Linked DNA regions of Homo sapiens: all the other regions are linked to region 1. Evidence: fine-mapped expression QTL. A gene starts in region 1. Each other region holds a variant in brackets. All regions are shown on one strand. Distances are between the middles of the regions. Region 1 holds the start of DELE1 (DAP3 binding cell death enhancer 1). Region 2 overlaps GNPDA1 (glucosamine-6-phosphate deaminase 1). Region 3 has its middle 21 kb from the start of PCDH1. Region 4 holds the start of PCDH12 (protocadherin 12). Region 5 holds the start of PCDH1 (protocadherin 1). Region 6 overlaps PCDH12 (protocadherin 12).

The links.
Region 2: its variant is fine-mapped to the expression of DELE1 in whole blood (TOPMed, PIP above 0.99).
Region 3: its variant is fine-mapped to the expression of DELE1 in whole blood (TOPMed, PIP above 0.99).
Region 4: its variant is fine-mapped to the expression of DELE1 in whole blood (TOPMed, PIP above 0.99).
Region 5: its variant is fine-mapped to the expression of DELE1 in whole blood (INTERVAL, PIP above 0.99). The same link has a PIP of 0.9 or more in lung.
Region 6: its variant is fine-mapped to the expression of DELE1 in whole blood (TOPMed, PIP above 0.99).

What each region holds. Positions count from the first base shown.
Region 1 is chr5:141,921,431-141,926,478 of GRCh38, forward strand. DELE1 (DAP3 binding cell death enhancer 1) reads left to right here and starts at 2,441. Exons shown (of 12, transcript NM_014773.5): 1 at 2,441-2,542; 2 at 3,151-3,265; 3 at 3,980-4,097. The coding sequence starts at 2,512. RefSeq lists an enhancer at 2,322-2,835.
Region 2 is chr5:141,996,125-142,001,172 of GRCh38, forward strand. It overlaps GNPDA1 (glucosamine-6-phosphate deaminase 1), which reads right to left. Exons shown (of 7, transcript NM_005471.5): 7 at 4,547-5,048. Among named protein-coding and RNA genes, the nearest start is that of GNPDA1, 14 kb to the right of the region's middle. The variant G/T (reference allele first, on the strand shown) is at 2,182.
Region 3 is chr5:141,896,609-141,901,656 of GRCh38, forward strand. It overlaps the pseudogene LOC729080. Among named protein-coding and RNA genes, the nearest start is that of PCDH1, 21 kb to the left of the region's middle. The variant A/G (reference allele first, on the strand shown) is at 2,820.
Region 4 is chr5:141,953,868-141,958,915 of GRCh38, forward strand. PCDH12 (protocadherin 12) reads right to left here and starts at 4,335. Exons shown (of 4, transcript NM_016580.4): 1 at 1,105-4,335. The coding sequence starts at 3,984. It also overlaps a transcript of RNF14 not described here. RefSeq lists enhancers at 3,195-4,101, 4,102-5,007. The variant C/T (reference allele first, on the strand shown) is at 2,066.
Region 5 is chr5:141,874,004-141,879,051 of GRCh38, forward strand. It overlaps PCDH1 (protocadherin 1), which reads right to left and starts at 4,407. Exons shown (of 5, transcript NM_032420.5): 1 at 4,220-4,407. The coding sequence starts at 4,259. RefSeq lists enhancers at 2,705-3,389, 3,656-4,405. The variant G/A (reference allele first, on the strand shown) is at 3,500.
Region 6 is chr5:141,947,763-141,952,810 of GRCh38, forward strand. It overlaps PCDH12 (protocadherin 12), which reads right to left. Exons shown (of 4, transcript NM_016580.4): 2 at 3,731-3,828; 3 at 1,670-1,821. It also overlaps a transcript of RNF14 not described here. Among named protein-coding and RNA genes, the nearest start is that of PCDH12, 7.9 kb to the right of the region's middle. The variant A/G (reference allele first, on the strand shown) is at 2,231.

The sequences.
Region 1 (5,048 bases):
AAACTGTGTAGTAAGAAATTAAGTGCTATAGGAATTGGGAAAAGTAGGGAGCAGGGAGGGCTCAAACAGTTGAGGAGTCTACACTGAAGAGCTGGGATTGGGCTGAACCTTGAGAAATGACACAAACTATGGATAGTCTGAAAGGAAGGAGGGTACAAAAGACGCAGGAGGAAGAACACAGCCAAACCAGCATACTTGTTTGTTACTTTATTTTCGGGACAGCAACACAAGGAATGTGAAAGGTTGCCGTCCCAAATCCCGAAGCAAGGCTATTTCTGAATAGTTGTCCAACATTCAAACTTCTGGGCCTTTATTTATTGTTTCCTCCGCTTGCAATGCCTTTCTTCCTTCTCCACCTGGCAAGCTCTTATTCACATTTAAAGGCCCCGCTCAAATGCAACTACTTTTCTGAAGCCTTCCAAGGGATCCCACAATCCATTGTTCATGCTTCTATGGGAACCTAACCTATTACACTTGCCTGCTTACCTCCCCTACTAATATAATTAATAGCAACTTACACTTACTGGGCTTTTACTATGTGCCAGGAACTATGCTAAACATTTTTATTTATTTATTTTTTATTTTTTGAAGGGTATTCCCAAAACACCAAGTTAAACATTTTTAACATATTATTTTATTTAAACCTCACAACAATTGCATGAGGTATTTTCCCTATTTTACGGATGAAGCTCTTGAGACTTAGTGTGGTTAAGGAACCTGCACAAGATAACATACCTACGAAGTAAGCAAGCTGTGATTCCAACCCAGATTTGTGGGACTCCAAAGCCCACTACTAATCCACTGGACCGTGTTCCTGGAGGCCACAAATGCTCTTTCCTCAGCTGTCTTCTCAGATCCTAGAACGGGCTGATATATGGCTCAAAAGTTCTTTAACGGCCAGGCACGGTGGCTCAAGCCTGTAATCCCAGCACTTTGGAAGGCCAAGGCAGGAGGATCACCTGAGGTCCAGGAGTTCGAGACCAACCTGGCCAACATGGTGAAACCCTGTCTCTACTAAAAATACAAAAATTAGCAGGATGTGGTAGCAGGCGCCTGTAATCTCAGCTACTTGGGAGGCTGAGGCAAGAGAATCGCTTGAACCTGGGAGGCAGAGGTTGCAGTGAGCCGAGATCACACCATTGCACTCCAGCCTGGGCGACAGAGAATCCGTCTCAAAAGAAAAAAAAAAGTTGTCTAACATATTAATACAACTTTCAAGCCACATGCCTCGGTCTAAAAGTAGGTGCCCCCAGTACACTTTTACCCCAGGTAGCAACTTCCACTCACCTTAAAGTCACATACCTGGAGGAAGGGGATAGGGAGGAAATCTAAACATCTTATACTTGAATGTAAGCTCCGTTATTTCACGGATTCAAATGTGGTGAAAGGAACTATTTTTTTTTCCTTTTTTTTTTGAGATGGAGTCTCACTCTGTCGCCCAGGCGCGATCTCGGCTCACTGCAACCTCCCGTCTCCCGTGTTCAAGCAATTCTCCTGCCTCAGCCTCCAGAGTAGCTAGGATTACAGGCGCCCACCACCACGCGCAACTGATTTTTGTATTTTTAGTAGAGACAGGGTTTCACCATGTTGGCCAGGCTGGTCTCAAACTCCTGACCTCAGGTGATCCGCCCGCCTCGGCCTCCCAGAGTGCTGGGATTACAGGCGTGAGCCACCGGGACCAGACGGAACTATTCTTTTCCACAAAAGAACAAACACATACATAACTTTTGCCACGTCTGAAGACGAGGGTTCTAATAGGGCGCGGGTGGTGTCTCAGGTATTTTGAAAGGAGCTACCCAAGAATCTCAGCTTGTCAGGCCAGTCATTCCATTTGACCCTATCTGGCGCGTATTGGGGCCCCGACAAGGTAAGGGGTTGGCATGAAGCTGCACAGTGAGATAAAGCTGGACCGGAGCTAGAACCCAGAATCAAAGCCTTGCCCTGTGCGGTTTCTCATCGCCTACGCAGTCGGGCCCTGGCCTGGCATCTCCAGGCAGGTGGCCTTGGACGGAAGCCCGGCCTACTGGCTTCATTTGTGGGACCCCGGGGGTCCTCTCCTCCGCCCATGGAGCCTGGTTACTCCCACTTCCTCAAGCCTAGGGCCTGGAGAAGCCTTTCCTGGTTCGCGGCCTCACGGTCTGCAAGGTCCTCTTACTTCCCTGAAGCCGCTCCAGCCCCACTTCCCGAAGGTCCCGCTTCCGGGTGGCTCGCTTCGCCACCTGCGGTCCCCTGCCTCGGCTTGGGAACGCCAAGGACATCCCCCACGGAAGCCTGGGCCCACATCCCCATGCCCTTGCCGCACGTCACCGCCCCGCTGGCCCCGAATACGCCTCCGCCCTGCACTTCCTCTCTGCAGCGCCGTCTTTCCGGCCGGGCTCCCTTCTAATTGGCCAGCTCAGAGCTTCCTCGGGTACTCGGCCACTCGGGGCATCGCGGCGGCCTTTCTAGCCGCTGTCCCAAGGGTTGGTCTCGCGCTTTCGGCTGCGAGCTCTCTGTGGTGCTGGCAGCGACATGTGGCGCCTCCCGGGACTCCTGGGCCGAGGTAAGGGACGTCCAAGCAACCAGCGTCACTCTGGGCCGCAAAGACCGAACTGGAGTGGGGGCGGGCCCGAGGAAACAGCCGAAGCGATCGTGGGCCGGGTTAGAGCCAAGGAAGGCGGGGCTTGAAAGAGGGCGGGGAAGTCAGGGGCTGCTGGAATTTGAGATGTGGATGGGCCTAGCTAGAAGAGGGTGGAGTCCAAGAAGTTGGTAGGACTGTTGGGAGGGGGAGGAGTCCAATGGCAGGAGATGGTGGACTGAATGAATGAAAGAGGATTAGGGGCCAATGGAGTAGGCATAGCCAGTGAAGAGAGGAGAGGTTTAGAGTCAAAGAGCCCCAAACATTAGTGAGAGTATATGTATGAACGTTTGGTCATCTTAGAACAGTGGTTGGCATCCACAGGAGACCAGCAGAATCACATGGGCGCTTTTAAAAAACGTGGATGCTCTACCCTGAGAAATCTTAGTTTATTGGTTCTGGGGTACTACCCTAGAATCTGTAGTAGATAAAAGATTCCCATGTGTATCCATGTTTAAGAACCTCTGCTGAGGCAGATGACAGTGATTCCTGGGTTCTTGTTGAGGTGCCTGAGTTTTGGTTGTTCTGTACAGCTCTTCCCCGTACACTGGGACCTAGCCTCTGGAGGGTGACTCCTAAGTCCACCAGCCCAGATGGGCCTCAGACTACCTCCTCCACTTTGCTGGTTCCTGTGCCTAACCTCGACAGGTAAGATACTGCCATTTTACCACTCATTTCCTCCCCTAGTCACCCTTTTTTTTTATTTTTTTTTTTTTGTTGTTTTTTGAGATGGAGTCTCATTCTGTCGCCCAGGCTGGAGTGCAGTGGGGCAATCTCAGCTCACTGCAACCTCCGCCTCCCAGGTTCAAGCAGTTCTCTGCCTCAGCCTCCCGAGTAGCTGGGATTACAGGCACCCGTCACCACACCCTGCTAATTTTTATTTTATTTTATTTTTTTTGAGACAGAGTCTCGCTCTGTCGCCCAGGCTGGAGTGCAGTGGCGCGATCTTGGCTCACTGAAACCTCCGCCTCCTGGGTTCAAGCGATTCTGCTGCCTCAGCCTCCCAAGTAGCTGGGATTTCAGGCATGCACCATCACGCCTGGCTAATTTTTTTTGTATTTTTAGTAGAGACGGGGTTTCACCATGTTAGCCAGGATGGTCTTGATCTCCTGATCTCATGATCTGCCCGCCTCAGCCTCCCAAAGTGCTGGGATTACAGTGTGAGCCACTGTACCCAGCCAATTTTTATATTTTTAGTAGAGATGGGGTTTCACCATCTTGACCAGGCTGGTCTTGAACTCCTGACCTCGTGATCCACCCACCTCAGCCTCCCAAATTGTTGGGATTACAGGTGTGAGCCACCGCACCCAGTCCCTGGTCTCCCTTTGCCCCTACTTGATAGCCTCTTATTTCATCATCTAGGTCAGGTCCCCATGGCCCAGGCACGAGCGGGGGTCCAAGGTCCCATGGATGGAAGGATGCCTTCCAATGGATGTCTTCCCGTGTCTCCCCGAACACCCTATGGGATGCCATATCTTGGGTAAGGCTTCCCCAGCCTGGTCCTTGACCTTCAGTGTAGATGAGAATGATCCTTCATGGGTATACAGCCGAACCTGGAACAAGGGCTAGGGAATCACTGTGTCCATTTAACAAGTAACCCATGGTATTGGAGCATATTCAAGGAGATATTGCCACTTTCCACACCCCCGCCATGTATGTTTTCCTCATTTAATTCAGTAAACATTTATGTAACACCTTGTCTGGGCCAGGCATTTTTGCTAGTCACTACGGACATAGCAGAGAACAAGATAGATACATTCTTGCCTTCATGGATCTTACAATAAATAATAATACATTGCATCTTTTTTTTATTATTCATTTTTTTTATTTTTAAATTATTATTTTTTTCTGAGACAGAGTCTTTCTCTGTCGCCCAGGCTGAAGTGCAGCGGCATGATCTTGGCTCACTGCAACCTCCGTCTCCCGGGTTCAAGCAATTCTCCTGCTTCAGCCTCCCAAGTAGCTGGGATTACAGGCACGTGCCACCACGCCTGGATAATTTTTGTGTTTTTAGTAGAGACGGGGTTTCACCATTTTGGCCAGGATGGTCTCGAACTCCTGATCTCGTGACCCACCCACCGCGGCCTCCCAAAGTGCTGGGATTACAGCTGTGAGCCACCGCGCCCGGCCTTATAGCATTATTTATTAATGTAAAGTATTATACATGCATTATCTTGTGTAATCCTTACAAAAATCTTACAAGGGAAATATCACCTTCATTTTACAGCTGAGGAATCTCAGGCTCTGAAATATTAGGTAACATGCGTAGGGTCTCATACCTGTTAAGTGGAGGAGCCAGATTTAACTCTGGAGTTCATGTTCTACTGCTTGGTTGCTGCATCAAATACAGAGCCTAGCCCGTAATAGTTGCTCAAAAATATTTGTTGAACCTGATCTATAAGGTCAGATTCTTACTAGTGAACACTAGGTC
Region 2 (5,048 bases), 75 kb after region 1:
AAAAAAAAAAGACCAGGTGCAGTGGCTCACGCCTGTAATCCCAACACTTTAGGAAGCTGAGGCGGGAGGATCACCTGAGGTCGGGAGTTCAAGACCAGCCTGACCAACATGGAGAAACCCCATCTCTACTAAAAATACAAAATTAGCCTGGCGTGGTGGTGCATGCCTGTAATCCCAGCTACTCGAGAGGCTGAGGCAGGAGAATAGCTTGAATCCGGGAGGCGGAGGTTGCAGTGAGACAAGATCGTGTCATTGCACTCCAGCCTGGGCAACAAGAGCGAAACTCTGTCTCAAAAAAAAAAAAAAAAAAGCTAGAAATAAAACACTGAAACAGACATGAATGACTTTGATGGGCTCATAAGACTGAACACAGCCAGAAAGAATCAGTGAACTTGAAGATATGTCAATAGAAACTTCCCAAATTGAAATTGAAAGATTTCAAAAAGGAATGGAAAATTTTTAAAAACAGCAGAATATCCAAGAACTGTGGGATAATTTTTAAAAGTGTAGGTTGGATGTAGTGTCTTACACTTGTAATCCCAGCACTTTGGGAGGCTGAGGTAGGCGATTGCTTGAGGCCAGGAGTTTGAGTCCAGCCTGGGCAACATGACAAAACCCAGTGTCTACAAAAAAAAAAAAAAAAAAAAAAAAAATACAAAAATTAGCCAAGCGTGGTGGTGCACACCTGTAATCCCAGCTACTCAGGAGGCTAAGGTGGGAGGATCGCTTGAGCCCGGGAGGTGGAGATTGCAGTGAGCTGAGATCATGCCACTGCACTCCAGCCTGGGCAACAGAGAACTTGTTTCCAAAAAAAAGGCAAAGTGTAGCTACGCGTAATGGGAATACGGTAGTTCCCCCTTATCCACAGTTTCACTTTCTATGGTCAACTGTAGTCCAAAAATAGGTAAGTGCAGTACAATAAGATTTTGAGAGGGAGAGAGACAATGCTCACATAACTTATTACAGTGTATTATAATTATTCTATTTTTGTAAATTTCTTACTGCGCCTAGTTTATAGATTAAGCTTTATCATAGGTATATGTGTATCAAAAAAAACTATCAGGTTCAGTACTATCCACGGTTTCAGGCATTCACTGGGGGTCTTAGAACATATGCCCTGTGGATGAAGGGGCGACTACCATACCAGAAGGAGAAGAGAGAATAGAAGAGTGAGAGATTAAAGTCAGAGTATGGGTAACTAGAAACTTTACTCTAAAGGAGATCAGAAAAATGAGGATGTACTTAGGGGGCAAATGAGGTACAGTTTTGTTTTTAAATCTTGTCTTGAATGCCATAGGAGTGGTCCAGGAGAGGACAATTTGATGCTGTAGGTGAGAGTTGGGAGTGTTGCCAGAGCAACGTCCTCAAGGAGGCAAGAGAGGATGGGATCTGGTGTGCAAGCAGAGGGCTCGGCCAAGGAGCAGGTAACAGGAAGACAGCAAGTGTGAGAGCAGGGCTGACGTCTGGGTATGTGATGATGGGAACTCGTGGACATTCTTTTCTGATTGCTTCTGTTTTCAAGGTCATTAGCTGAAAGGAAAGCTGGGATAGAGGGGTTAGAGGTTTGGGACCTTATGATTTAGTCTTTGAGGATACTAAATGGACTAGTCTGATTATTAATGTAGTATGACTGCCAGCTGGTGGTAATGGCTCCCCTGAGGTCCAAAGTACTATGTTCTGTTTTACCTGCCCATTATTGCATAACTCTAAATCCTGTCACACTGTATCTTACCGGAAATGGACGTGTTTCATTAGCATCTCATCACAGTAAGGATTTTGGTTCCCAGGAAAGAAGCATCAAATTTTCCAAGTTAGATCTCCTCAGTAGGCCAGTTGGCTAATCCATTATGTAATATGCCATGATTTCCCCTGATTGTTATGTACGATCACTACTCATGGGGACAACTATCAGGCTTATGGTTCAACAAGTACCAGTGCCTTCTAGATATCAAGGCACTGCTATAGGGGCAGAATAGAGCAGTATTTAACATCTACCTTCATGGAGTTTACATTTAGTGGGAAACAAAATACACGTCCAGTGGTAAAGGGTTCTGAGAAAATAGCGCACGGCAAGGATAGGAACTTGGGGATTGCAGCTTTATATTGGAGGATCAGGGAAGAGTTAATCTGATAAATGACATTTGAGGCAAGGCCTGAAGGACGGAAAGAGTAGAAGAGTAG[G/T]CCATAGGGGTAATAGCCAGGCTCTTGTGTTCACCTCTACTTTATAAACAGACTAATAGAAGGAAGGTGGCACCCATTGATGTCAACACTGCCACTTTTTACTAAATGTAAGTAAACACATTCTGTCTACTCTTCCTGAAATACAGCTCTGTGTGCACTTAATATTACATTTTCCTTTTCTTATCAAACTTGCTGTTTTACAAATTCAACTTGTTCCAGTCAGCTGTATTTAGTATTTCCTTTTTGATCAAATTGTGAAAACCTGTTCAGTGGGAACCCATTTAACTGGCTGTTTCGTCCTCTCAGAACTGCCTCAGACATTTTTGTTTTGTTTTTTTTCATCCCCAGACTTCCTGGGACAAGCCCCAGACTTTTTTTTTGGAGACGACGTCTTGCTCTGTAGCCCAGGCTGGAGTGTAGTGGCATGATCTTGGCACACTGCAACCTCTGCCTCCTGGGTTCAAGCGATTCTCCTGCCTCAGCCTCCCCAGTAGCTAGGATTACAGGTGCACGCCACTGCACCTGGCTAATTTTTTGTATTTTTAGTAGGGATGGGGTTTCACCATGTTGGCCAGGCTGGTCTTGAACTCCTGACCTCAGGTGATCCGCCCGCCTCAGCCTCCCAAAGTGCTAGGATTACAGGCGTGAGCTACTGCTCCTGGCCAGCCCCAGACATTTTTGAAAGCACCCTTATTTCCAGTAACAAGATATTCCAGGCCTACTCTGATCCCTACCCCCAAACATATTAGCTCCTGTACAAGGAGCCCTGGTATTAGAAGCCCAAGATGACCCAGGGGTGTACATCCCACTTGATCGCATAAGCACTGGTTGTAGCAGTACACTGCTGTTGAGCCACCAGGAAAACACAGACTCAGGAAGGACATCAGATCTTTCTAAGGTCTCAAGTTCATACAGGTATCTCCAGTTTAGCTGTCATCACTAAGTCCTTTTTTGTCTCATTTTAATGTAGTTACTATAACATACTTAAAATTTAAACCCTTCTTGACTGGATAAACAAAATATATGTCCACAAAACGGAATACTATACAGCAATAAAAAGGAATGGACTGCTGCTACGTGTTGTATGAACCTGAAAAATGTTATGCTTAGTGAAAAAAGCCAGACACAAAAGATGTCATGTCACATGATTCCATTTATATTAAATGACCAGAAAAGGTAAATCTGTAGACGCAAAGCAGACCAGTAGTTGCCTGGGGCTGGGGTTAGGAGTAGGGAGCTTTTGGGAATGATAGAAATGGATTGTGATGCTGGGCGCGGTGGCTCATGCCTGTAATCCCAGCACTTTAGGAGGCCAAGGCAGGCAGATCACTTAAGGCCAGGAATTCGAGACCAGCCTGGCCAATGTGGTGAAACCCTGTCTCTACTAAAAATACAAAAATTAGGTGGGTGTGGTGGTGCACACCTGTAATCCCAGCTACTGGGCAGTCTGAGGCAGGAGAATCACTTGAACCCAGGAAGCAGAGGTTGCAGTGAGCTGAGATCGCGCCACTGCACTCCAGCCTGGAAGACAGGGTGAGACTTTCTCTCTTTAAAAAAAAAAAAAAAAAAGGATTGTGGTAAGGAAGTGCAGTATTCTATAAACATAAAAATCATTGGATTTATATCAAAAAAATATATTTTTTTGAGATGGGGTCTTGTTCTGTTGTCCAGAGTTGGGGTACAGTGATGCGATTATAGTTCACAGCAGTCTTGAACTCCTGGGCTCAAGCAATCCTCTTGTCTCAGCCTTCTGAGTGGCTGGGACTACAGGCATACACCACCATGCTTGGCTAATTTTTAAAAATTTCGTAGAGACAGGGTCTTGTTATGTTGCCCAGGCTGGTTTTGAACTGCTGATCTCAGGTGATTCTCCTGCTTTGGCCTCCCAAAGCACTGGGATTATAGGCATGAGCCACTGCACCCAGCCTCAAAATAGTTAAAAAAATTAAACCCTTCTTTTAACTTCTATATCTACCTCCTTAATTGGCTATATTGCCCTAAGATATTCCATTATATTAACTTTAAAAAAAAAAAAACCTATATGTATTTTTGCATACCTTGCAATAATATCCCTCATCACAAATCTGCCTTAATCTTTATAACAGCTGTATCCTCGTTTGGATCTCAGGTACAGCCCCAACATGACAATTTATTGCTCATCTGTTCATTCCTACCCTTTTTCCTGTAAGTGCTCCATTTTCATAAAATCTTATTTTTCACTCTGATGATGGTTGCTATGCTTGTGGCCTTCCTGCAGGCTCTTGTGAGGACTGAATGTGAGGCTTTGCTTACCAGCTCTTTCTAAAATATATAAATAGCCCAGAGAGTCTTCTAAAATTGGGGGCTCAAATCCACAAATGACATGTTATTTGAAAATACTGGATTTAATAGAAAATATCACATTGTAAACAAATCCATTGATCCATGAGCTTAAAACAGAATGACGGCACAATCACATAGAAAAGCTAAAGACAAAACACTGGTACCAAACATAGCCCTTAGGCCTGGGCTAGGCTCTCAAAGGTCTTTCCCAGAAATGGAGGCAGCAGTAGCTTCAAACAGGCACAAAAACAGCCAGGAGGAGGCAGCATCCACTCCATGAAGGCCTAAGACAATGAAAGGAAGCCAGAGCAACAGACCACCTTGGGATCCGGGGAGAAGGGTAAATGGGCAAAAGGGTTGTATTTCCTGATGCTCTCAGAACATCAGACCACACCATGTGAATTTAAGCAGGACTATTTTAAGTGGGGAAACAATACTAGAAGCATTTGGTGTATTTTCCTGGCACTCACCTCCTAGGTAAGCAGGAGAGCGGGACACTCAGGAGTTGTGACTAAACTCACACTTAAGCTGCCTGCCCAGACCGT
Region 3 (5,048 bases), 25 kb before region 1:
CGGGCAGGGCGCGGCGGGTGACGGGACGGCGTGCAGGGTGCAGAGCAGGGCCCGCACGCTCCGCACCACTCACAGCGCCATGTTCGCTGCTGTTGTTGTTTTTTGAGACGGAGTCTTGCTCTGTCGCCCAGGCTGGAGTGCAGTGGCACGATCTCAGCTCACTGCAAGCTCCACCTCCTGGGTTTACGCCATTCTTCTGCCTCAGCCTCCCGAGTAGCTGGGACTACAGGTGCCCGCCACCATGCCTGGCTAATTTTTTGTATTTTTTAGTAGAGACGGGGTTTCACCGTGTTAGCCAGGATGGTCTTGATCTCCTGACCTCGTGATCCAGCCGCCTCGGCCTCCCAAAGTGCTGGGATTACAGGCGTGAGCTACCTCACCCGGCCCTGAGGTTTTGTTATCTACCTATAATCTGGACTGGATCTTAAATTCTTCTAGTTTCCTCCAATATCTGGTTATCACTCTCCAAACAATTTCCAATTTTTCTCCCACCTTATGACTGAGAATCACTAAAAATTAAAACTGCCCTTTTTCCAAAGCCCTGCAAGCTAAAGCTGGACAACTTCATATAGACTTTAGAGAAATCACAACAGCCATATATGAACAATTTTTGTACGTGTTGCTCTATGTGCTACTCAGAAAGTTCCCCAGAACACCTCATGCAAACTGCAAACCAGGAAAATCTATCAGCTTGTCACTACTTGTCCTCATTCTACCATCTCAAGATGCTTTGAGCTCGAATCTAGAAATTTTTTTGACTGGCTGTCTTCCGGACTCAAAAACTGAGTTTATGGATTGCTCTAATTGTTAATGTTTGTTTTTCTATTGTTTGTCTGGAAATGCCTCTTATTAAATGCCTGATTGATTACACTACATAGAGGCCTAACTTTGGTAGAAGCCTGACTGCAATACCCCCTAACAACTGGAATAAGATACAACTGTTAACTATTTAACTGGACTGAGTTATTCCTGGAACTGAGAGATGGTTCAATGGGTTATGCAATAATCTTCCAACTCAGTTTTTGGGCTGTGAGGCCTCTTGGGAAAGTTTCAGACAGGAGAATGATGGGGTTCAGGATACCGTACTCCAAAATATGGCAACTTGGCATTTGAAAAAACAGCAGAGGAGAACCACTCTCACCTTTCCCTCTCCCTTCTTCCCGGAAGCAGGCCATAAAACCTGGGAAGGTTGGCCGGGCGCAGTGGCTCATGCCTGTAATCCCAGCGCTTTGGGAGGCTGAAGCTGGTGGATCACCTGAGGTCGGGAGTTCAAGACCAGCTTGGCCAACATGGTGAAACCCCGTCTCTACTAAAAATACAAAAAAAAAAAAAGTAGCCGGGCATGGTGGTGGGCACCCGTAATCCCAGCTACTTGGGAGGCTGAGGCAGGAGAATCACTTGAACCCAGGAGGCAGAGGTTGCAGTGAGCCGAGATCACGCCACTGCACTCCAGCCTGGGCGACAGAGTGCAACTCCATCTCAAAAAAAAGAAAAGAAAAAAACCTGGGAAGGTTACTCTCTGACCTTCTCCCTCCTTTCTTTCCTGAAGTAGGTCATGAAATCCTCATTCCAGAGATACCCTCCCTATACTGAAGAAAAGGGACTTCCTTGTTCTTGAAGGCAGAAGAATCTGAACAGGACTTGCTAAGTCCCCTACCACCAGTTTATTACCATTAGATCACACCCCTTTTGTCCTATCATACTTCTGCATGAGTGACCACTTCTACTCTTCCTCAAACCTAAGCCTAAATAAATACACAAGTTTTCCTGTTTTGGGGGGGTCTTCATTTCCTTATGAAGGCTCCTGTGTCATGTAAACCTTATATTAAATACATTTGCATACTTTTCTCTTCTTAATCTGTTTTTTATTATTGGAATCTTGGCCATGAACCTAGAAGTGGATGAGAAAATAAATCTTTTCTCTCCAACACAACACTGACTTTTTTTTTCTTTGTTTCTCCAAGGAGTCAGTCATTTCACAACTATTTGAGGGCCTAGTTCAGTGCAGGAAAACAGAAACTACTCTAGGTATTTTGAACTGAGGAGAACTTAGTGTAGAGAATTAGTGTTTACACAATCATTGAAAGGAGTTGTGGAATGGACTTCCCAAAACTGCAACAGGAGAGCGAATATGTTTGCCATGATTAGTAAGATGGGGAATCAAAAGGCCACCACTGTAACTGTTGAGTTAAAGAACACATTGTCAGAGATCTGCCATCCAGGAACTAGAAAGCAGAGATCAGGAAGCTGAATGGCTGTTGCAGGAGAACCCCATGTCTCCAGGATCCTGCTTGCCAACAGAAAGCCCAAAATAGCAGAAAGAAGTCATCTTCCTCCTTTCTGTCTTACAGTCATACAAGTGTGCCTAATTGTAAGGGAGTCATAGAAATGTATTCTAGCTTCCCGGTCCCTGTAACACATTAGAAGAAAATAAGAATAGAGGATGCATGCCAAATGACCATATTCAATACAAACCTGCCCTTTAGGAGTCCACAGATTAGAGAGATAACACCACAATAAATGCAGGTTGAAAGGATGAGCCAGGAAGTATCTGTTTCAGACCGAGTTTAAGTGGCACGAGTCAGGGACCATTTTTTTTTTTTCTTTTTGAGGTGGAGTTTTGCTCTCGTTGCTCAGGCTGGAGTGCAATGGCGTGATTTCGGCTCACTGCAACCTCTGCCTCCCAGGTTCAAGTGATTCTCCTGCCTCTGCCTCCCGAGTAGCTGGGATTACAGGCACGCGCCACCACACCAGCCAATTTTGTATTTTTAGTAGAGACGGGGTTTCTCCATGTTGGTCAGCCTGGTCTCGAACTTCCA[A/G]CCTCAGGTGATCTGCCAGCCTCGGCCTCCCAAAGTACTGGGATTACAGGCATGAGCCACCGTATCCACCCCATAGTAGTCTTAAAATGATTCCAGACTTAATTTGAAGCCATGGAGGTCAGACTCAGAATCATTAAAGGGACAAAGCTGAAGTCAGTGCCACAGGGAAGAGAGGGGAACAGAAGACACCATGACCTGATGTCAAAAGCTTGGAGCTCTCACTTCCTGCAAGTGGCTGTACACAAGGCCGCGAGTGCAGCCCCAAGTAAATAGGGCCCACCTTCAGTGGCAGCTTCTCTCTCACACTGGCTGGTTATGGTTTATGTGGCCCTTTGTGGCTTACTTGTCACCTGCCTCGAGACCATCATCATTCAGAAATGAGCCCGCAGGATCACCACTGGGAGAAGAGAAATACAGAGGGAAAAGATTCAAAGTGGTCCCATCTTCCAAGCAGGAGGGCCAGGGACTCAGGAGTATTTTGCTGTAGAAGGCCAAGGATCAGGTGCCTCCCAGCTGCCTGTATTTGCTTCCTTCTGCAATTCCAGATGTTTTGGCACCTCTCTTCTGTGACTCCAGGAATCAGGAGCCAGATCCTGGTGGTTCTAAGACAAGGGAATAGTGGCAGCTTCTAAGATTGCAAATAAATCCCAAGTCCATTAAAGGGCACTACTTTGTATCTGTTGAGTGAGTATGAGGTGGTCTGGTATCTCCTCGGGGCTTAAATAGAAGGCAGCCTATCCTGCTGGTTCAAAGCTTGGCCTCAGAGTCCTGTCCTGGCTCAGTTGCTTCCCAGTTGTGTGATGTTGGGCAAATTACTTATTCTCAAAATGGAAATAGTGGTACATTTTTCTCTCAAGATGGTTGTGAGGATTAATTAATTATGTGTAACTATATATAAAGTACTTAGCCCAGTGCCTGGCATATAGTAAGCTTTCTATAAATGGTAGCTGATAGTATTTTTGTTATTATTATCAATACCATATGTTCTCGGCAACAAACATCTCCCATCTTAATTACCAGAAAACATCTGGAATAGAAGGTTCCTCACACAAAGCTTGGTCTAGAACTATGAACTCTTAGTCACATTCTGGATAAGTGCAGAGCCAGACCAGGCCAGGATGCCCCTCAGGCCTGTTTCCTCCAGCTGAGAAGTTTCTGTCTGCTTCAATCCTAGTGCTGTCCCTGTGTAGTTCTACTGGGCATCTTGTTTTTTTTTTTTTGAGATGGAATCTCATTGTATTGCCCAGGCTGGAGTGCAGTGGCATGATGTTGGCTCACTGGAACCTCCACCTCCTGGGTTCAAGCGATTCTTGTGCCTCAGCCTCCCAAGTAGCTGGGACAACAGGTGCATGCCACCATGCCTGGCTAATTTTTGTATTTTTAGTAGAGGCGGTTTTGCCATGTTGACCAGGCTGGTCTCGAACTCCTGATCTCAAATGATCCACCTGCCTCAGCCTTCCAAAGTCCTGGGATTACAGGCTTGAGCCACTGCACCCGGCCTCTGCTGGGCATCTTAACATGCCCCAGGAGAGTTACATGGTGTCACCCTGGCAGGTGAGAAAGGAACATACTGGTGATAGTCAGAGGCCCAAGATCAGAAGGATTTGGAATTATCTGTTCTGACATTTTCTGTCTGTTTTCCTTCTTCTCTAATGTCCTTTCCCCAAAGCATTCAACTTCATTTTTTTTAAATTAATTAATTTTTTTTTTTTGAGATGGAGTTTCGCTCTTGTTGCCCAGGCTGGAGTGCAATGGTGTGATCTCGGCTCACCGCAACCTAGGCCTCCCAGGTTCAAGCGATTCTCCTGCCTCAGCCTCCCTAGTAGCTGGGATTACAGGCATGTGCCACCATGCCCGGCTAATTTTGTATTTTTAGTAGAGACAGGGTTTCTCCATGTTTGTCAGGCTGGTCTTGAACTCCTGACCTCAGGTGATCCACCCGCCTCAGCCTCCCAAAGTACTGGGATTACAGGCGTGAGCCACTACGCCCAGCCATTTAAGTTTTATTGAACATCAATTCTGTGCCAGGCATTGTGCTAGCACTTGGTGTATAGTGAAGAACAGAGAGAAAGGCAACTCCTAACCAACTGGAGTTCTCTTTCTAATGGGGCCACAAACCATATAAATGTGATCACATAAATAATCATTTAATTACAGGTTTAATCAGTGCAAGGAAGGAAAATGACAGAGAGTAATGAGCATGGATAATGGGGGAACTTACCATCCCTC
Region 4 (5,048 bases), 32 kb after region 1:
AACCTGAGCTGATAGCCTGGCCAAACAGAAGTGTGCCTTGGGCGGGCAGCCTGGCACAGTGAAAATATCTGAGGTTCACAGAAGCAGATATGGGTGTGAGATCAGGCATCATCCCTGGAAAGGTTTCCCCACTTGTGTCTAGAAAATCCCAGGTCCTTAGACATTTTGACACTCATCATCCCATTTAGCCCTCACACTCTAAGGAGGCAGACACAGGGTAAGTTTGGTCTCATAATCCCCATTTTATAGATGAGGAAAATGAGGCTCAGATGTTGAAGGACGTGTACAAGGTTGCCCAGCTCCTAAGTGGCTGTGTTGAAATCTGAACTCCAATCTGCCTAACTGCTAAGTTCTAAGGTAATTTCCACTGCCCCATCCGCAGGCCCAGCCGGAAAGCTCTGGGGTCTCAGACAAATTATTTGCAACACCTGGGTTTGGGTGCAATGATGCCTATGCTGGCCTTCTTCATAGGGAAGTTGCCCAGATGAGATGAAGGCAGGCAAATAGTGGAGATGGAGAAGTGCTTTGAGGAAGTAATAGTAATAATTTGCTGAGTACTGACTACATGTCAGATGGACACTGTTCTACAGGCATTAAGAGCATTCACTCATTTTATTTTCAAGCAAACTTAGAAGATGGGTGGTGTTAACATAGACATCTTCAACAGAGATGTTAACTTCCTCTGTGGTTCAGAGCTAGGAAGAAGTGGAGCCAGGATTTGAACCCAGGTAACCTTGCCCAAAGCTTATACTCTTAATCACTACCTTTGCTGTGTGTCTACTTGTGAGGCACCATAAATGCCTTATAGGAATTAATTGATCAAATCCTCTGGACAACTCTACAAGGTAGATACTCTTACTATCATCTCTAATTTACAGATAAGACAACTAAGGCCCAGAGACAGTAAGGAATTTGCCTAGGATCACACAGCTAAGTTCAGCCGATCACAAAGCTGTGCCCTGAACCATTGCTACCCAAAGCATCAGAAAGTGCCAGGTGAGCCTAAGGAAGAAACATGAGGACTGTGCAGGTTATGGGGGTGTCTGATTCTGTTTCTGGTGGTCCAGGAGTGACCAGAGAAAGAGCTGCCCATGCCCCAGGTACCTGAACAGGAGGAGAATCCACAGTGAGCTCCTCCACGGGGTTCCGCTCGGCGAAGGCAGCCACAGACAGCCGGACCAGGCTCCGCAGGATCTGACGGGGCCCTGATTCTTTCTCAGGGGACACTTTGCCATTGAGATGTCGCTGCCGTCTCAGGGTTGCAGAGGAGGCTGGTGGCCTCTGTGGGGCTTCCTCACTGCCCTGGTCTCCAGCCAGCCTCCCTGTGGGGCTGCCTGCAACCTTCAGAGGCCTGGAACGTGGCTGGCCTGTGGCAGGCTGGGGCTCGGGAAGGTTCAGGTTCTCCCGGGAGGCATTCCTCTGCCTGGGATGGTTGAAAAGGAGGTTGACCGTGTCTTGCAGCACCTCTCGGCTCTCCGCCGGTGCTCCCTGGTTGCCTTGATTACGCAGCGTCCTGTACAGGGTCGGGGTGAGGTGGAAGGGGGCCTGCAGGCAGGGGTCCCAGCCTGCTTCCATCATCGCCTCCTTGTCCACATCTTTGTGGGACTGCCCGACTTCACAAGGCTCACCTGCCTGACCCCTGAGCACAGGCACGAGGTGGATGTCTGCCTTCTGAATGTGTTTCTGGGGCCTCTTGGGCTGCTGGCGGTAGGTGGACTCGGCCTCCCGACAGTTGTAGGCCCTGTTGTCCTTCTTTTCTGTCCGGCAGATGGACATGAACAAAGCCAGGATCAACCCGAAGATGCCCAACAGTACAGCCAGGCAGATCACCGTCAGCATCGACATGCTCAAGGCCCCAGGCTTGCGGGCTGAGTCCCTCAGGTGGTCCACACTGGTGACAAACATGACCCTCAACAGGGCTCGGGTCTGTAAGGGGGGGCTTCCCTGGTCCTCTACTACTATCTCCAGCTCCCACTCACTCCCAATGAGGCTGCTGGCATTGGTGACATTGACGAACAGCTGCCCCGTATGAGGGTTGAGGATGAAGAGGTGGGCTTCATTTCCA[C/T]TGCGGATGCTGTAGAGGGGCTCTCCATTTGCCCCCGAGTCTGCATCTCTTGCCACAATGGTTGTCAAAAGGAATGGCCGGGAGCTGTGAGTGGCCAGTGGAGGTGTGTCAGTGCCCGCTGGGCCCAAGCCATTGGGAGTCTCGATGGGCACCAGCAGGTGGCCTGTGGAGGCATTCACAAGCACGGAGAGGCTGGCTTTTCCATCGCTGAGCACAGGCTGGACCACCTCTGGGGCATTATCATTGGCATCCAAGAGGCTGACCCACACAGAGACACTGGATGCAAGCATGGGTTGCCCGCTGTCCTCTGCGATCACCTGGAACTCAAAGCCGGCCATCTCTTCATAGTTCAGTGACCTCTGAGCAGTGACCTCTCCTGTGTTGGAGTCAATAGCTACTAAGTGAGCAACTGGGGAGTCCTGGATGCGGTATGAGACTTTTCCATTAATGCCCAAGTCTGCATCATGAGCCTTGATGGTAATGAGGTGAAGAGAGGGTAAGTTGTTTTCCCGCGTGGAGACTTCATACCTGCTTTTCTCAAACACAGGTGCATTGTCGTTGATGTCACTGATCTGAATGCTGAGCTGTTTCTTGGCTGATAAGGGCTGGAGTCCTTGGTCTTGGGCTAACAGAGTGAGGGTATATTTGGGCCACTGCTCTCTGTCCAGTGTGGCATTGGTTAGCAACATGTATGTGTTGCCATTAGTTCTTTTCAGCCTGAAGTGGCCCAGCTCTTGGCTCAGCCAGCAGTGGACCAAACCATTGTGTCCTGAATCCAAGTCATCTGCCATGACAAGAGCAATAAAACTGTCCTTGGGAAGAGCTTCTGACACCAGTGATGGCTGGGAGGCCCATGTGACGTGGATGCTTGGGATGTTGTCATTGACATCCAGAACCTTGATGAGAACTTTGCAATGGGCTGGGATAGGATTGGGACCCAGGTCCCTTGCCTGAACATCCACCTCGTAGGCAGGGTTCTTTTCATAGTCTAGAGGTCGACGCAGAATGACCTGGCCTGTCTTGGCATCAATACTGAAGGTGTCCAGCACCTCTGGAGGCATGTGCTTACTGAGGAAGAACTCCACCTCCCCATTGGGGCCTTGGTCAGGGTCTGTGGCGGTCAGTTTTATGAGAAGCGTACCAGGTGCAGCATCTTCTTGGATTTCCAGTGCCAGTGAACTCTCAGCAAACGCAGGGCTATTGTCATTGGAGTCCAAGACGTTGACCTTGACCAAGCTGGTACCTGACTTGGGGGGGTTCCCATTGTCATAGGCAGTTAACACCAGATCAAAAAATGAATGGATTTCCCTGTCCAGCTCCTTCACCACTATGAGTTCTGCATGTTTGGTCTCATCAGGGCCCACAATGACATCCAAGGCAAAGTGCTCACTGGGAGACAGAGTGTAGGTGTGCAGGGTGTTAGGGCCTGTGTCTGGGTCAAGAGCTCTGTCCAGGGGGATCCGGGTTCGCAGAGAGGCGCTCTCAGAGATTTCCAGCTCCTGCTCGCCTTTGGGAAACCGTGGCTGGTGGTCATTGATGTCCAGCACTTGGATCTCCACATGGATCAGAGCCAAATCCCCTGTGGCAAGCACATCAAAGGAAACCAGGCAGGGATCCCACTGTCGGCACAGCTGCTCTCGATCCAGCCGCCTGCCTGTGCTGAGCAAGCCTTCCTCAGAGTCCACCTGAATGGGGAGCGCCTGAGGCAGCTGCAACACCTGGAAGGCAGCCCCAGCTTGCCTCCGCCTCTCCTCCCGGCCCAGTTCCTGGGACAGCTTCCCGATCACTGTACCAGATGGCACTTCCTCTGACACTTGGTATTTCACCGTGAGAGTGGTCACCTCCTGACAATCCCCTAAAAGAAATAAGTAGCCACCTGGCCCCAAAAGCCCCAGCAGAAGTTGCAGAAGTTGCATCATGCTTACCGCCAAGTGGGCTAGATTCAGAAACCACTAGAGTTCTTTCAAGGCTGGACAAGTCCTCCAGTGTTTCCTGGATGGCTTGATCAGCCCCGTGCTCCTTCCCCCAGAGCTGCCGGCACAACCTTGTCCCATAGTTAGATGATTATGAAACAAGCAGGACCCCAAGGCAAGGCCATCTTCATTGGAAGCGATCTGAGATGTCCAAACGCCGATCAAGAATTGCCAGGGGAGACCCCCTACTGGGGAACTAGTTGGTCCACTTCAGCAAATGATGGACAAGAGCTGGTCTAAGAGGGACCTGACCCAGTTGAGCAGGATGTGGGACTCTGACTGCCAAACAGTTGCTAGGCTGGGGAAACAGAGAAGCAGCTTTTTCCTATGGAAACCCCACCTACAGGAAAAGGGAGGGCTGTGAGTTTCAATGCCAATTAGAGAAAGAGCATTTCCTGTGAAGCTAAGTGGCCTGCCGCTGAGGAGGATGAGGCCGGGGCTCCGGGGACAGGCCAGATGGGAAGCTGCTGTCCACGCAGCAAGGCGGCTGCTGAGGGAAAGGGAGCCTCTGCATCACCAAGTGAGCAGAAAACTTGAGCCTCCACCTGCTTGCACGTGGACTGATGCCCCTCCCGGGCAAGTCATGTTTCCTGTTTCTCTCCCCTTCCCCAACTCTCTTTGTTCCTATCTTTTCCCCCATTGTTCCCCTCTCATTCCTGTCTTTTTCCCAATCTTGTTTACCTCTCTGTCTTGACTCTGCCCTGATCACCCGTTTTTGTCTCACTGGAAAGCAGCTGTGATTAACAGAGCAGCCATCAGAGGTAAACTGCCTGAGTTCAAATTCTGACTTTGCAACTTACCAGCGGTGTCATCTGGGACAAGTCACTTAACTTTCCTGGGCCTCCATTACCTCATCTGTAGAGTGGGGATGGGAGTAAGAATAGTAGCCCTTTCAGCAGGAAACTGTGAGGATTAAACGAAATGATGTAGGAAGGGCTTTGGCCTGGGCCTGGCCCCGAGTCACAGGCAGTGACGTTATTGCAAGGGGTGAGTGTTGTAATCTGCACAAC
Region 5 (5,048 bases), 47 kb before region 1:
ACAAGAATGCCTCTTCACATCCCAGAGTCTGGGGGAAAGAAACAGAAATATCTGAGGCTAGAATCTGATTCCTGTTATGTCACACCCGCCTCCCCACCATTCCTGGACTGCCAACCTTGCCCCGTAAGGAGGGAATAAGAAACAGTGGGCCTAAGGGTCAAGGAATGAACCAGCCCAGGCTTCCTAGGCTGCTGCTGTTCACCCAGGGGCCCGTAGAAATGCAGGAAGAGAGCCAGGGTGGCCTGGAAGGGCAGGAGCAGCAATAAGGAGGCCTTCCCTCACCCGTGTTCCCACCATCTCTGAACTTTGTCCCCAGCAGTTGGGCACTGGGAGTCATTAATCCCACACAGCAGCCTTTGATACATGCAGCGCCTTATCTGCCCTTCCCCGGGCCCTGGCTGCCTTCCTGGGCAACGGTGCCCTACCTCCCCCCAGTGACATGGGCACCCAGGACCCTGAGAAGCCAGAGCCTGAGGGGGAACAGGCGCAGGGACCCATGTCCCTCAGATAGAGGAGCAGAAGTGCCGTCAGGGGTGTAGGAGTAAGGGATAAGGAGGGGACGGAGTCCCAGAAAAGCTGAAGGAAATACTGTCTGTGTCAACATCTGGGAAGGGATGAGAACAGAGGTGAGAGTTCACCCGGAAACTTCACTTCCAGCCCACCCCGGGGACCAAGGTCCATTTTGCTGAGTGCTGTGGCCAGAGAAAAAACACACAGAGGCAGCCACCACTGTCCCAGTAGCCAGGTCAGCTCTGACTCCCCACCCTCACCCCAGCACTGTTACACAACGGTCACTGCCGCGGGCACAAAACACCAAGGGACAAACGGACTGTCGCGGGGAGAGGGGAAGAAAATGGGGTTGCGTGGGGTGGAGCTGAACAGAAGCCTCCCACAGAGAGCAAGTGTGCAGACCTCAGCTCCTCTCCCCTCTCTCCCACAACCCTCTATTAGCCTCTGCAGGGCTTCTGGGCACCTGCATGTCAGATCGTTGGGGTTAGAACCCTCGCTCCACCACTTCCTAGCTGTGTGACATTAACCAAGTGAATTTACTTTTCTGAACCTGTTTCCATACTGTGAAATGGAAATAATGAAACCTGCCTCTTGAAATTATTTGGGAGAATTAAATGAGATCTCATGCCTATAAGGTCTATTACATTAAGGTCTATTTACATTACATGTAAAGGACAAATCATTTTTTTTTCTAAGTCTTCTAATTGCTGAATAGACCATTTTATTTCCAGCATCGGGCACACAGTGGGTGCTCCTTGGTTCGATGAATAAACAAGCCAATCCCCTCGCTGGTTGGTAAGTCCTATGAAGGCAATGATGGTATGTCTCTTACTACTGCATCCTCACCACCCACCATGGACCCTGGCAGATAAAAGGTGCTCAATACATTGTTGAACAGAATCTCTGCACCAACTATCCTTGCTCACGGCAGGGGCAGCCCTCACCTTCTTCTTTCCCTACACCCCTCCCCGAACCCTGATTCCCACTTAGCTCCTCCCCCACCCTCGCGGCCCCCTCCTGGCCCTTCAACCCCCTTCTCAGCAATTAGCTTACTATCGCTTGCCCAGCTCCCCTGCAGAAGTAGCCACAGCAGCAGCCCCTCTGCTAAGAAGATGGCAGACCAGCAAGACACCCACTTCCAGCTGAAGTCCCTTTTGGAATTGGGAATTGGAGGTGGGTAGGAGAAGGGGTAAAAACTAAATGCGGCCAGAACTGAATCCAGACTTGCCTCCCTATCACACTGCCTCTGGCTACCTCTGGGGGCCAGTCTGCCTCTCCCCTCGATTCCACCCCATGCCCTAGTCTAGTTGTAATTACAGGTTCCAATTCCCCCAGACCTTAACGTCAATAAAGTAACACCCACCTACTCCCGCGCCCCCCACCCCCTACAAACACAGCTAGACCTCCGGCTTGTCATAAAAACTTTCTGGGCGGCCCCTTCCCTGGCAGCTCCCGAGGGTTGACCCAGAGCAGGTGCTAGAAGCCTCGCGGCGTCTTCCTGCACGAAGCGACCCAAGCAGCCCCAGTCCGCACCGCCTTGGTCAGCGGGCGCTCCCAGCACACACCCAGCGCGCGGAGCGACTCCTCCCAGAGGACGCCGAGTGTGTGTGTGTGTTGCGGAGATTAGGGGGTGGCGGGGGGGACGGCGGCAGTTTCTTGGGCTCTGGCGGCCCCACCCCCACCCCGGCAGCGCCCAGCCTCCAGGAACCCAAGGCAAGGCTAGGGCGCGGCGTGGTGAGAACGCGCTTCGGCTAGTGGGGGGAGCCCTTGCGCCCCCCGCACCCAGGCCACCGCGGGGAATCCCTCCTCCCCGGCATCTCCGGCCTCGGCCTAGGGTCCCCCGCAAGCCGGAGCCGGCGCGAGCGGCGCAGCGGGCGCCAGGAGGGGGCGGGGAGGGAGCCGGCGCCGGAATCACAAAGCCGCGAACCCGGCTAGGCGGGGACATTCTCATAAAACCGACCCTCTCGTGGCGAGCAGAGGGGGTTTTTTGCCCTACGCTCAATCCTCCAAGGCCTCAGTGCCGCCCCCAGTCTTTCCTGGCAGAAGAAATAGTAGCCGACCACTGTTGGGGAAACTGAGGCCAGAATTCTGACTTACAGAGGGTAGCTGGGGGGAAGGGGTGCGAGACCACCTCGCCTACAAATTCTGCTCCTATGCCTGCCGCGATCTCCGTTCTGGCTCCAGGGCCTGCCCGCGCACACACTGGCCTACAGCGGGGACCAGGCGGAGGGGGCGCTCAGGTGTGAGACGAACCCAGGTGTGCGGGACCCACCAAGGTGTGTGGGACCCAGGTGTGCTGGAGACCCAGGTGGCTCAGAAAACTCAGCTAAATGGCTGGAAGAGGGTCGCAATCACCGTCCCAGGCTAGCACCCTCTACAAAGGAACCTGGGGCCCCAGAGCTCCGGGGAGGCGGGATGGCTTGGCCAGCCAGGTCCAGCTTGTTCCCGGAACACCAGCCGGTTCGGCCCGGGAGTGGGGGTTGGGGAGGCGCCGACTGGGAAGCCGGCAGGCCGGCCCAGCCTTCCCGCTGTGCCGATATTTACAATAATAATGTCGCGATTAACGTGGCGGGGCGCTTGGGGCTCGCCGAACGACCCCGGCGGCTTCTCCTGCCTGAATCTGGACTCCGAGAGAGAGGAACGGAGTGTGTGTGTTTGTGTGTATGCGCTGCAGGGTGTAATGTAATGTGACACTGTTGGTTTAAGGTGTGTGTGACACCCAGTGTTAAGATGGGTGAAGCAGTGGATTCTGTGTTTGTGACCGTGAGGCGCTGCTGTAGGTGCCAATTCCTGTGTTAGAGTGTGTGCCATCAAGCGTGTGCTGAGATACTGGGTTGTGTGTTTGTGTGGGTGCAGTAGAGGGGTGCAAGGAGACCTGTGCTGTGTACCTATGTTCTGGCCAAGAAGTGGGTAAGATGATATATGCTAGGGTGTGTTCCTTAAAGGAATGTGGGGGGTGGCTAGGTTTTGAGGGTTCATCTAGTGAACT[G/A]TGGCTGTGACACTCGTACATGAGGGCACGAGATTGTGTTTGTGTGTCCACGTCGCGGGGTGTCACACCCGGTTGTGTTATTGCTCTGTAAAGCCACGGGTTGTGTGTCGGTGCTGCTGATCGTGCAGACACTGAAGCGGATTCTGAGCTGGCGACGGTGCCCCAGTGGGCGCTGGTGTGCGGGAGGTATGTCTGTGTGCACATATGCAGGGATGTATGTATGTGTGTATATATGTCCACGGTCTGGCCCTCTGGGTGCCCGCGAGAAGCTGGAAGCGGCTGAGTGAGCCGAGGTAGTTGCCCAACAAGTGTGTATGTATGTGTTGTGGACAACGGTCCTTGCTTGCTCCGTCCTCCGGGAGACCCCCACCAAACTGGGGGCCGCGCGCTTCCCCAAACCCATCCTCCACGCCGCGCGCTCCTGGAGTCTCCTTATCCCCGTCTCTCCGAGCGCGCCCAGGTTTGGGACGCGGGGACTAGGGTTCTGCTCAGCACCCCCTCCCCTCCCTCGGCTTCTCGCCGCGGACCTGGGAGGACGGAATCCCTCAGCCGCATCCCCTGCTATGGGCTCCCAGCAGCCCCCACCTCAGCCCCCTCGCGCCGAGCTCGTGTTGGGCCCCCGCGGCCTCGCTCCGCCGAGCGCCCCTCCCTCAGCTCCCGCCGGCCATGACCGCTTCGGGCCCCAAGCCGCTGCTGCCTCCACCGCCGCCGGATCCTTACCCGCCTCCGGGCAGCGCCGGCCGCCCGCCCCGCTGTCCATGAGCCGCCGCCGGCCCCGGCCTGGGCTGCGGCTCCGCACGGCTGGGGCTGGAGCTGCAGTTCGGGCTCCGGCTCCGGCTCCGGCTGGCTCTGGGCGCAGCAGCCCGGCGGCTTTGCGTCCGCGCCGCGCTCCCGCTCCCCGAGTGTGTGAGGCGGCGGCGGCGGCGGCGGCGGCGGCGGCGGCGGCGGCGGAGCCAGCAGAGAGCGGAGCGCACAGCCCGGCCCGCCCCCTCCCTCCCCCCTCCCTCCCGGCCCGCCCGCCTCCCCGCCCCCCCTCCGGCCGGGAGGTGGAGCTCGGGACCGCTCCGGTCCGGCTGGGAGGGGACCCCGAGCACCGCTCCCCAAAGCCTGGACCCCTCCCTCTGCCATCTCTTCACTGCCCGAGGCCCAGTACACAGGCCGTGCCCTCCTCTGAGCTTCACCTTACACTTATCCCACCCAAGCCTCCATCTAGGACCGCTCCTGGATTCCCCTCCTTACCCTACTCAAACACCTGTCCCCAGCTCTGTCTGCCCCCTGGGAAGTCGAGGCAAGGGAAGTGTCTCCCACAGCGCCTTCTTCCCTGGGCACCTGCTCCTCCATATCCACCCTCTTCCCGCCCAGATCCCCGATCGCCCTGTGTGGCCCTCCCTTCCCGCTGCGCTCGGGGAAAGTCCACCCCTCCCCCTCCGGCCGAAGCCGCAGAGCGGTCAGCCTCGGTGGCCGCAGCAAGCCGTGGGGGTGGGGCTATGGAGGGGACCGTGGGAGGAGGAGGCTAATGGGACCCGGGGGCTCTAGAGTGAGGATGGGG
Region 6 (5,048 bases), 26 kb after region 1:
AGCAGATCTGAAGCAGCAAGATCCCAGTCTCCCCATGGCAGTCCAGCCTGTGAGCAGCAAAGGCTTTTCTGCCCCTCCTCTTTCCTTACCCCCAACTCCTTACAGTGCCCCTGTGTTCAGTACCCTTTGTGCTGTGGGCAAGCAGGACCGTGTGGGAACTGACCCCACAGGTTCCAGCCAGAGCTGACCAATAGAGATAGAATCCAAAGCTATATCCCCCAGCCATACATAGCCAGTGAGCACTTGAAATGTGGCTGGTATGGCAGAACTGAATATTTTATTTTATTTAATTTTAATTCACTTAAATTTAAATAGCCACTTGTCGCTAGTGACTACCTCATTGAACAACACAGCTCTAAAATTTACAGCCACACTGCCTGTGTTAATAACCATCCACGAGCTGCACAACCTTGGGCAAATTATGAAACACCCCTGACCCTCACATTTTTCCTTTATGAAATGGGGATAATGAATAGCCCCTATCTCATAAGATTTTCTCATGAGGTACTTAGAACAGGGCCTAGCACATAGAAAGTGCCCAATAAACATTAGCAATATTTTTTAACCAAGGAAAGAGAAGTCCCTGCCATACCTTCAGTGTGTCTGCAGCCAGATGGAGCACATGAGAAACAGTGTTAACTACATAGATAGAAAACCACAGCACAGGGATGGTCTGCCGTGGGGTGTGTTACCAAAGGAGGCTGACCAATGTCCACAGCAGGGGCGGGGGGCGCTAGCAGATTCTTGAATTCAAGTTCACATTATGTATTTATTGTCAAAGCTAATTATTTCTCTGCAAAAAAATCTTTTTGTTTTCATTGCAATTGTTAGCATATTAAAGAGTTGACCTGGTTCCCAGGGTGAAAGGGTATTGAAACACACCAAACGCCAATGAGTGGTAAGAAGTCCATAGAGGACAGGCTGGCTCAGGGTTTGGCTCCCCTTCAATCACTGGTGAGCTGGGTGACTCTGGGAAGGCTACTTGATTTTTTTGAGCCTCGGTTTGCTCATCTGTAAATTCGAGGTAATAATTATCTACTTGAGGGGATTGGTTGGAGGCTTAAATGAGATCATGTACATAAGATGCTTCCCCAGTGCCTGGCATGTTCACTATTTTTACAATGATTTTTAAAATGAATAATCAACGTAGGCCAGGTGCCTACTTTGGCTTTGATTACAGGTGGCTCATGCCTCTAATGCCAGCACTTTGGGAGGCTGAGGTGGGTGGATTGCTTGAGCCCAGGAGTTGGAGACCAGCCTGGGCAACAGGTGAATCCCTGTCCCTACAAAAAAAAAAAAAAATCAAAAATTAGCGGGATGTGGTGGTGGTGCTCACCTGTAGTCCCAGCTACTTGGGAGGCTAAGGTGGGAGGATCACCTGAGCCCAGGAGGTCAATGCTGCAGTGAGCTGTGATCATGCTGTGATCATGCCACTGTACTCCAGCCTGGGTGACAGAGCAAGACCCTGTCTAAAAAAAAAAAAAATCAAAGTAGAACCTGGTCTTTAAAATACTTTCTGAGGCTGCAAGGGTGCAAGGGAAGTTAAATGTTGCTGATGTTCCTCCACAGAAACAGAATGGCTTTTCCCTGCAGTGGATTGGAGCAGAACTCTGAAGCTTGGACACCATGGGGCAGAAGCAGGGTCAAGGTAACTCCAGGGGGTCCCTACCTGTGCTGGGGTCCAGCAGACTTGACAGCTCTTCTTCTAGCAGTTGCTTCACAGAGAGGTCCTCTTCAGGATCCAAAGGCCCTTCCTCCTGTTCTGGGTCTGTCTGGCCTCCAGCCCTTGCACTTGGGCCATCTGTGTCTGGGATTGCACTCCTGCAAAAGAAACCAACCAGTCCATGGGTAGGGACATTCCCATATAGATTCATTCATTCATGCCCATTCATGTTTGCATTCATTTACCCATATAGGGAACTGGATACACAGCCTGGCCTCTAGAGTCAGACCAACCTGGATCATGTGATTCCCGCCCTCCTCTTACTCTGTTTCCTCATTTGTAAAATGAGAGTAATAAATAACACCCACCTCACAGGGTGTTGTGAGGGTAAAATGAGACGTTGTAGGTAGAGGGGCCTACCACAGAGCCTGGCACATTGTAAGCACTCAGCAGACAGAAGTGAAGATGAGTTCATTGATATCATTCTCGTTGCCCCTCCCATGTCTAGGTATTGCCTGGCACACAGGAGGAGTTTAGTAAACCTCAGTGGAGCCAGTGCAGCCGTCC[A/G]TCCGTCCGTAGGAGAAGGCTGGGATTTTTGCCTGTCTCATTGCCTGCTCCCTTACTGATGCTCAGAACAGGGCGTGGCACACAGTGGGTGCTGAATGAGTGACTGAACATTCCTTCCTCCCTACTTTAGGCCAAATCCTAGGCCAGAAGAGCAGACCTATGGAGGGTGCAGCCGGAGTGAGGCAGCCTAAAGCTGCTCAGAATCTGCTACCTGCACCCCAGTCTCCTGCTGTCTCCATCCTGGTCCCTCTCTCCCATAGACACTTGGGGACAGGCCTGGACCCTCATCCCAGCAGGTGGGAAGGCTACCTGAGGGGTTTTAAGGCGTAGGAGTCCTTCTGTTTGTTTGGTTTTGTTCCCCTGTAGCCATTTCTGCTGCTGTGAAGAAATGAGCAGGGAGGTGGCAAGTGTGTGGGTGATAATGACAACTAATGTTTTTGAGCAGTGAGTCTGAGTCAGGCCTTATGCGATGCAAGGTCCATGCACCGTCTTATTCAAACCTTCCACACCTGTAAGGGGTTCTCTTTAATCAACCCATTGTACAAATGAGAAAACCAAGACTTGTGAAGATTTTGCAGGTTGCCCAAGGTCCCCATAGATTAAGAGATAAAGCAAGACTTCAAATCCAGGCCAGTGTGACCCTGGAGTGTGTGGACTCACCCCTGCAGTACACTACCTCTCACCATCCTTGTAAAAAGAAGCTGTAAGTTGTCAGGGCAAGAGCACTGATGCAGGAGTCAGGAACTCTGAGAGCTGGTCCCAGCTTTGCCACTCACTTGTTACATGACCTTTAGCAAAATTGCTTCAAGGGGAAAGGAGTTAGCATTGTGTGTGCACCTACTATGTGTCAGTTGCTGGGCTATGGGCTTAGAATACAATTGATTATGAAATCCTCACCCCATTACCACAAGGGAAATGGGATGGGTTCTGTTTTACAGATGGGGAAACCAAGGTCCTGAGAGATTATCTCACTTGCTCAAGTTTACATAGCTGGTTTGAATCAAGCTACTCAGAGCCTCAGTTTCTCCATCCGTAACAAGAAGTTGGATTTGATGTTCTCTTAAGGTGTCTTCAATTCTAGGATTGCCCAAAGGGACACGCCCACACAGCCATGTCTTTAGTGGGGAGCCTTCATATTATGTTTATGGGTCAAGAGAAAGAGAGGTGACAGTTACAGATATAAAGGCAATTTACAGCACCTCTGTAATTGGGACAAATACAGTCTCAGGGATGAGGTCATTTCCTTGGTGACTACTGTATTGATGGTATTTATCAATACAGCTAGTTAGTCCTACAGGACTTCTAGGTCCTGTAAATACTATCAATACAGTCACCTCACGACCAAAACTCCCAGGGTGGGAGGATGGATGCTGTCTGCTGCACCCTCCCAGGGGACCGGTGTCTGACTTGTGCTCACCCTTCCTCACTCACAGAGGCTGCAGTGATGAGGGGCGGCCAGTAGGGGCCTTGAGATGCCTGTGGGGGCTACGTGCTGCTTACCTGCTGCCTCCTGGCTTGGCCAAGTACTTATTTCCTCGGTGGTTTGGTTTGGGCTGGAATTGGCCCTGATGCAGCAAGGACAGCAGCTGGGAGATTTGCTACAAGACAGGAAAAATCTGTTGACTCCACACAATTCCGACTCAGCACACTTCCTCGCCGGATGTTTCCCTCAATGCCGGTGCTTTCTTTTTATAGTCTTTCCTCTGGCTTCAGATGTTTGTGTGATCAGATGGGGGATGGTGCCCAGTGACAGAGACAGGGACCTGGGCGGGCAGGTCCCCTGCTCTGTCATGTCACCCCAGGACCTGAGTGTCTGAAGGAGAGCAAGAGGACCCTCTGGGCCTGTCCCCTCATACTCATTCCTCCGAGTGTCCTGCACCTGGTGGACTCTGAGAGATGGGGTGAAAAAGGCATTTCCTGACCATCAATTTGTTGTTACTTTGATGAAGATTATCTTAAAGAGTTATGTTCCCCTTTAGCAGTATTTGGACATTCGGCCAATTTTTGTTGACCAGATGTAAGACTATGTTGTAGAGAAGGCAAAATGGTGTCATTGAATTATTCATTTATTCATCTTTTCATTCATTCAACAAGTACTTAATAAGTGCCAGGCAGGGTGGTTGCTATGGGAGTAAGAAGGAGAAGGAGCCCCAGCTGCTGCCCTCAGCGTGGTCACATCTGTCAGGATGTGAAGGTTGCAGGCAGCCCCACAGGGAGGCTGGCTGGAGATCAGGGCAGCGAAGAGTGTTTACCACAGGGGTTGCCTCTGGGCATAGGGAAAGAATGGGGGCTCTGTGGGAGCAGAGGGCCCCTAACCCAACTTGGAGCAGGGAGGAAGCAGGGGGGTGGTACTGGATTAAGTTAATTCATTCATTTCAACAGATGTTACTGAGTTCATACCACATGCCAGGCACCTCTGCTGAGACCCAAAGGCTCCATAGGAGTTTGGCAAGTGGAAAGAGAATGAAGGTCTGGGCAAGGGGTGGGGAGGTTTTCAGGCAGAAGCACTGCACACTGAAAGGCTGGAAGAGAAGGTAGAGTTTCAGAAAGACTGGAGAATGGAGTAGGGGATGGGTGAGATATCACGGCCAGACCCTATAGGCCATTGGAAGGGAGAGGCAACAGATCAAGTCCTGGGAGGCGGAGTTCTAGTTCAAGGCCATTTGTAGCTTATTGTATAGCATTAGACAGGTTTTTAGACCTCCTCAGACCTCAGTTTCCTCATCTCTAATAGGGGGCTAGAAATACCCACACGCCTTCTTCTCAGTGTTGTCACGATTAAATGGTTTGAAAAAGTTAAAAATCCTCTGCAAAAGCA